Homo sapiens: one gene and its partner. The protein of the gene in region 2 purifies or fractionates together with the protein of the main gene of each other region. This does not show direct contact. Each region holds a gene or a part of one and is shown on either strand. Other genes may lie near its edges. The genes, in order: BORA and MSH5.

Region 1 (3,823 bases), on a different chromosome or scaffold from region 2:
CTGGCACTTCATGATATGTTGCTTTATATTCACCGACTTTTTTGATTTTTATTCATATCATTTTTAGTACACTCACATTTACTGGAATGACATTGTGAAAGCTGTTTCCCTTCATGATCAGTCCAAGGAGAGGGTACGATGACATCTTTAGTGAAAAACTAGGAAAATTAAAGTCATACAATTAGGCATAAATTCCACCCAAAATGTGAGACGGTACCTGTGTTTTTCCAAGTAATTATTAAACATGTCATATACTAACTTTATAACTGTATGCAAAAATTTTAATACAAATGACCAAAGGAAAAATGGAAGAAATTTAAAGTATATATAAAGAGGAATCTTAATACTTCAAATCAACCAGTTAAATTTGAAACTTGCAAACTAAACTAAGAGGATTAATCATAGACAAAGTATTTTAAATTTCTTTCCCAGGTTTTTTTGATGGGGTTACAAAAAAAAGGATGAAAAGGGAAGGAATATATTAAGACAGAGACATGCAAGTAGGCCAGTATGAATGACGGCACTGAAGCTGGCTTGTTTGTTCTGGCTCTCAAGATCTGATTATTAAATTTTCAAGAATTCTGTGCACCAGTTGTTAAAACCAATATTAAAAATAAAATTATGTAAACTTACAATTAAATATATTAAAAATAAAGGTAACAAATATCCAAAACTCACCACTTGCTAATTATTTTATATATTTATCAATGTCTATGCTCTTGAGGTTAATAATGTATTTTGTATCTGTATGGTGGAATTCCTACATATAATGGTGTGCCACTATTCTTCCTTTCCCATTCAGTGATGTCACATCAGTAGCTTGAAACTGGCCATGGTTGGAGTACTTACACTATGGATAGCAGGAATCGCTATAAATCGTACTCCTTCCACGACCAGAGAGCAAGTTGTTAAACATTCACCAGCACACTACTGGCCAGTATATTCAAATGAGATAGAGCATTTGTATACTTTTCTTTCCTCTTTCATTTCTACCACAGTGTTTTCCCTTCCCTAGGTTTTGCAAGTAACCAAACATATTTTCTTCATATTTTGCTATACATATGACAAAGAGCTAATTTTCTTAACTAAATTACCCATGAATCTAAGAGGAAAAGATTCTTTTTTTTTTTTTTTTTAAAGGTGGACTGGGGCAGATATAGACAATTACCAGAAAAAAAATTAAAGGACCTATAAACTTACAAAGTGATGTATAAGTTCACTCAAAAGTAAAGAAATACAAAAAAAAAAAGTCATTTTTAAAGTAATAGGAGTAGAACAAATTAAGAATTCTGATAATAATCAATATTGGAGATATGGAAAATCAAGCAGTGTCACACTGTAATCAGGAGTATAAACTGGTATAACCTTTTAGGAGGGCAATATGGTAAAATCTACCAAAACTGAAAATTCACAAAGCCTCTGACTTACTAGGTCCATTTCAAGAATATAAAGATATATATACAAATCACTGCAGCATTATTTGTGACAGAAAAATAATAAACACAATTTAAACATCTGTCAACAGGGGCTAGGTAACTATGCTGTTGCTAAGAGAATGTAAAAATCTGTATATGCTGGTTATCAAAAATTTCTAAGAAAAATCATGAAGCAAAAAAAGGAGGATGCAGTATGAGAACGATAATAGTATGAGAATGATAATCCTATTTGTCGAAAATATTTTAAGGACATATGCTATTAAATAAGTAAAATTAATCTGAAAGTACACATAAGAAATGTTATAGTCATTACCTTCATGAAGTGGGATGGGGAAACAGGAGGCTTTTTATTTTATATTTTTTCTTTTTGTTTTTACTATATGTATATGTTTCTTCTATTTTCAAAAATATATATTGAAAAGAAACAAATTTTCTTAAGTTTACCTGCTGGGTTTCTCTTTAAAATTAAGGATTCTTAAAGAAAGTATTTTTTCAAAATGTTGGAAATTTTGAGAGTCTGAGAATATTCAGGTGGGGAAGAACCAAGTGACTGAGTCAGAATGAAAACTGTGCAGTTACTAGATAGAAGAAGAAGTAGGTAATGTTTAGCAGGAGTAAACATAGTCTTTTGTGGTACGGAAGAGCCAAGTACGGCTAAGGAACAGAGGAGGGTTGAGGGGGCTAGAGGGGCAGAAAAGTAAAAATCAGAAATGCTGCCATCACATAAAGACTTTCTGAGGAAAGAACAAGGTAAGTAACCCTTACTTAGATGCTGGGCCAGGCGCAGTGGCTCACGCCTGTAATCCCAGCACTTTGGGAGGCCAAGGTAGGCGGATCATCTGAGGTCGGGAGTTCGAGACCAGCTTGACCAAGATGGAGAAATCCCGTCTCTACTAAAAATACAAAATTAGCTGCGTGTGGTGGCGCATGCCTGTAATCCCAGCTACTCGGGAGACTGAGGCAGGAGAATCACTTGAACCTGGGAGGCGGAGACTGCAGTGGGCTGAGATCATGCCATTGCACTCCAGCCTGGGCAACAAGAACGAAACGCCGTCTCAAAAAACAAAAAATAATAATAATAATAACCTTATTTAGATGCTAAGAAAGGCAATTCAACAGACATAAAAAAGCAAAAAACTTAATTATTTTTATTTTTTAGAAAGCCTACATTATGATATACCTTTCCTGTTTAACAGTAAGAGATTTTATTTCATGAATATCTTAAAAATCCAAAGTATTAACAAAAAAAGACAAAGCCATTCCCAATGCCAATCTAGACTCTGAAGGCCTGAGAATATTCGACTTCCTCTACATAAACTCCAACTTGAAACAAAGTTTGTGCTAATCAACATTTTGAAGGCACAAGGAAGACAAATTGTGCTAGGTCCTGAGAATGAAAGGATGAAGTACAGTATTGGCCAAAAAAGATTGCGTCTAGGGGACAGAAACACTAAACTGATCATTACAACAGTATGCAAGTGCTATGCAAGGTACTGGGATAGCTGGAAATTATTGGTCTTAGGACAGTACAGAAGGGTGCTTTATATAGATGGGACTGTGAAGGGCTTGGAGGGGAGATAGGACAGTGAAGGAATTGAAGAAAGTCTTCCTAAAAGAAGTGATGTACATGCAGAATTGATCCTTAACTGATTTAATGATCAGTAACAGTTTAAGTTACCTCTTCAATGGCTTTTTGTCTTTTGTCTTCCACATCTTTATCTATTCTATACAAAGATAAAGAAGAAAAATAACCATGCTATTACTTAAGCTTATTGAACATTTTAAAAAATAACCTTTCAAATAAATAATCTCCCTTCATTGAAAACTGGCAAATGTTAAGCTCACTTTATAATTAATACTAGTGGTATCTTGTAACATTTAGTAACATTTAGGCAGTATTCTGAAATTCAGCAGTTAGCTGTTAGGCTTACCTCCCTCTTTTCCATTCAAAGTTTGAATGCAATGATACTTTATTTCAAAAGACTTACATTGATATTAAATTGCTTTTAACAATATAAATTTGATAAACTTTGTCCCTTAATACAAATTAAGAAGTATTTAATTCAACATACATCTAAAAATTGTCCAAAGTTTTTCTCTTCAATTATAACAAGTTTATCATGGCAATAATTTTAGAATCAACTTTTACTGTAAAATAGATGAGGATAGTTCACAGTTCTAAACAGTCAAAAATATTAACTCTGAAATAAAACACTGACAATATAACATTTTTTCCAAATGAATTTTTTTTTCACTTTGATACAATCTGCAATTACTGTTATATAAACTTCTCAGCTACAAGATTTAATATAAAATTTTGGGTCCAAGCACAAAGCATATACTTGCCAAGGACTCAGCAGTTAGCTTTCTAGGACCACTTCTTTATT
Region 2 (3,823 bases):
AACAAACAAACAAAAAACAAAAAAATCTCATGGCTATCTTGGAGAATGTTAGGGAACTAATTTACCATATTGATAGCTAGTAAATAAAGGTGGGGGGTGCTCATTTCTGCAGCACATATACTGAAATTTCGAAGGTTACAGGGATTAGCACGGCCACTGGGCACGGATGACACAAATTCAAGAAGCGTTCCATATTGGGGAAAAAAAAAAGGGCTGGGCATGGTGGCTCACACCTGTAATCCCAGCACTTTGGGAGGCCGAGGCGGGTGGATCACGAGGTCAAGAGATCAAGACCATCCTGGCCATCATGGTGAAACCCTGTCTCTACTAAAAATACAAAAATTAGCCAGGCATGGTGGCACACGCCTATAGTCCCAGCTACTCGGGAGGCTGAGGCAGGAGAATCACTTGAAACCCAACCCGGGAGGTGGAGGTTGCAGTGAGCCAAGATTGTGCCACTGCACTCCAGCCTGGTGACAGAGCAAGACTCTGTCTCAAAAAAAAAAGAGTGGGGGAAATATCAAGCAATTTTCTGTATTTCTATATGATTTCTATCACTTGGCAACCAAATAGTACATAAAAGGAAGTTTCTCTTTACAGAAATTTCTGGCTAATAAATGAAGAAAGAATCAGAGATTTAAATGCTACTACTTTGTAATTGCTAAAGAATTAATAGATGGCTGGGTGTAGTGGTTCACGCCTGTAATCCCAGCACTTTGGGAGGCTGAGGCGGGTGGATCACCTGAGGTCAAGAGATCAAGACCATCCTGGCCAACATGGTGAAATCCCGTCTCTACTAAAAATACAAAAATTAGCTGGGCGTGGTGGTGTGCGCCTGTAAGTCCCAGCTACTCAGGAGGCTGAGGCAGGAGAATCACTTGAACTCAGGAGGCGGAGGTTGCAGTGAGCCAAGATCGTGCCACTGCACTTCAGCCTGGCGACAGAGGGAGACTCACCTCAAACTAAATAAATAAATAAATAAATGAATAATAGATTTAGGTATTAAACATCAGAACATTTGCCAACATCAGAAAAAGAGAGACAATCGGACATATCAGACATTATGTTCCTCTACTTCTAAAACAGTATTGAAAAAAAAAAAACTCTGAACCTAATCATGCTTCTAGAACTAAATATTAATTTACAGAAACTATAGAAGAGAGAGAAATGTGCCAAAAACATCTAGGAAATGCAAACAGCAAAATCCAGGCTAATGGAAAACACTATAAGACAAATAATAATCTAGTTTCTTCAACAAATTGCCAGGAGAAGAAAAAGAGAAAAAGAAAGAAAGAACAAGAGAGAAAAGATAGAGAAGGAACCGGTAGATTAAAAAGGACTAGGGCCATCATCTGACTGGGCATCGTGGCTCACACCAATAGTCTCAGCACTTTGGGAGGCCCAAGCAGGAGGATCACTTGAGCTCAGGAGTTTGAGACCACCTTGAGCAACATAGTGAGATCCTGTCTCTACAAAAAATAAAAAATTGGTCAGGTGCAATGGCTCACGCCTGTAATCCCAGCACTTTGGGAGGCCGGGGCAGGCAGATCATCTGAGGTCGGGAGTTCGAGACCAGCCCGACCAACAGGGAGAAACCCTGTCTCTACTAAAAATACAAAATTAGCTGGGCGTGGTGGCACGCACCTGTAATCCCAGCTACTTGGGAGGCTGAGGCAAGAGAATCACTTGAACCCAGGAGGTGGAGGTTGCGGTGAGCCGAGATCACACCATTGCACTCCAGCCTGGGCTACAAGAGCAAAATCCCGTCTCAAAAATAAATAAATAAATAAATAAATAAATAAATAAATAAATGCAAGCAAAAAATAAAAACTTAGTTCGGTGTGATGGCCATCACCTGTGGTCCCTGCTACTCAGGAGGCTGAGGGGGGAGGATCGCTTGAGCCCAACAGTTTGAGGCTGCAGTGAGCTACAATTGTGCCATTGCACTCAAGCCTGGGTGACAGAGTGAGACCCTGTCTCAAAAAAGAAAAATTTCAGATATTTGATGATACCAAATAATACAATTTTTAAAGTAAGATAACAATACTGTTATTCTTTTTAAAAAATAATTTTCTTTTAGAAATTACCCTGAAATATTGGCCGGGTGAGGTGGCTCACGCCTGTAATCCCAGCACTCTGGGAGGCCGAGGCGGGTGGATCACGAGGTCAGGAGATCAAGACCATCCTGGCCAACATGGTGAAACCCTGTCTCTACTAAAAATACAAAAAAAAAACTTGGGCATGGTGGCATGTGCCTGTTATCCCAGCTACATGGGAGGCTGAGGCAGGAGAATCGCTTGAACCTGGGAGGCGGAGGTTGCAGTGAGCCGAGATCATGCCACTGCACTCCAGCCTGGTGACAGAGTGAGACTCCATCTCAAAAAAAAAAAAAAAAAGAAAAAAGAAATTACACTGAAATATTTATGGATGAAATGATATAATGGCTGGGACTTGCTTCAAAATAATCCAAGAAAGCCAGGTGCAGCATCTCAGGCTTATAGTCCCAGTTACTCTGGAGGCTAAGGTGGGAGGATTGCTTGAGCCCAGAAGTTAGAGGCTGCAATGAAATATGACTGCACCACTCTGCTCTAGTATGGGTGACAAAGCAGGACCTTATTTAAAAAAACAAACAAACGACAACAAAACCCACAAAATAATCCAAGAGGGGAAAGTAGAAAAAGATATAGATGACACATACTAGGCTGGGCACGGTGGCTCCCACCTATAATCCTAGCACTTTGGGAGGCCGAGATGGGCAGATCACTTGAGGCCAGGAATTTGAGACCAGCCTGGCCAACATGGTGAAATCCCATCTCTACTAAAAATACAAAAATCACTCCAGTGTGGTGGTGGGCACCTGTAATCCCAGCTATTTGGGAGGCTGAGGTAGGAGAATCACTTGAACTTGGGAGGCAGAGGTTGCAGTGAGCCGAGATCGCACCACTGCAATCCAGCCTGGGCGACAGAGCAAGACTCTGTCTAAAAAAAAAAAGAAAAAGAAATAAAAAAAAATTGGCGTAAGTTAAAGTGTTGAAACTGCATGGTGGGTACATGGGGGTTAATTATATTATTCTAAATATTTTTTACATTTTCCTGAATACAAAGTTAAAAAAAAAAAGAGGGAGGCCGGGCCTGGTGGTTCACACCTGTAATCCCAGCACCTTGGGAGGCTGAGGCAGGTGGATCACCTGAAGTCAGGAGTTCAAGACCAGCCTGGCCAACATGGTGAAATCCTGTCTCTACTAAAAATACAAAAATTTGCCAGGCATGGTGGCGGGCGCTTGTAATCCCAACTTCTCGGGAGGCTGAGGCAGAATTGCTTGAACCCAGGAGGCGGAGGTTGCAGTGAGCCAAGATCGCCCCATGGCACTTCAGCCTGGGCGACAGAGCGAGGCTGTCTCCAAAAAAAAAAAAAAGAGGGTAGAATAAAATTGGACAGCATGTCTAGGGTACAGACAGTCTGGAATACAGGCTGAGGGCCTTTACCTGGACTTTTGGGATTCAAGAAGGAAGGCCTTACCTTGTAGAGAACCTGCCAGTCGCTGACCTTGGTGTGGGACAACTTCATGCGTTTCAGAATCAGCTACAGTCAGACAAGGTTACAGCCGCTGTTTTCTCTTCCCTCACTCTAATGCCCCTCAAGAAGCCCACTGCCCAGTATCAGCCCTCAACCTCCTTCCCCACCTCCCTGCCCTCCACCCTGGGCTCACAGGCACGTTCTTGATGTGACCCAGGAGCCGATGCAGCATCTGAGCCATGTCCAGATTCTGGGGCAGCAGAAAAAACTGAATGACGTCCAGACGAGAACTGAGCTCCCCCAGGT

Evidence for each region.
Region 1: the proteins of MSH5 (region 2) and BORA purify together in Homo sapiens (affinity purification with mass spectrometry; one large-scale study listed by BioGRID and IntAct). This does not show direct contact.

The regions. Positions count from the first base shown.
Region 1 is NC_000013.11:72,734,297-72,738,119, reverse strand, and holds part of BORA (protein aurora borealis), read right to left. Parts: intron 3,161-3,823; coding exon 3,115-3,160; intron 159-3,114; coding exon 77-158; intron 1-76. UniProt on the Homo sapiens protein: Required for the activation of AURKA at the onset of mitosis.
Region 2 is NC_000006.12:31,753,327-31,757,149, reverse strand, and holds part of MSH5 (mutS protein homolog 5), read right to left. Parts: coding exon 3,711-3,823; intron 3,584-3,710; coding exon 3,521-3,583; intron 1-3,520.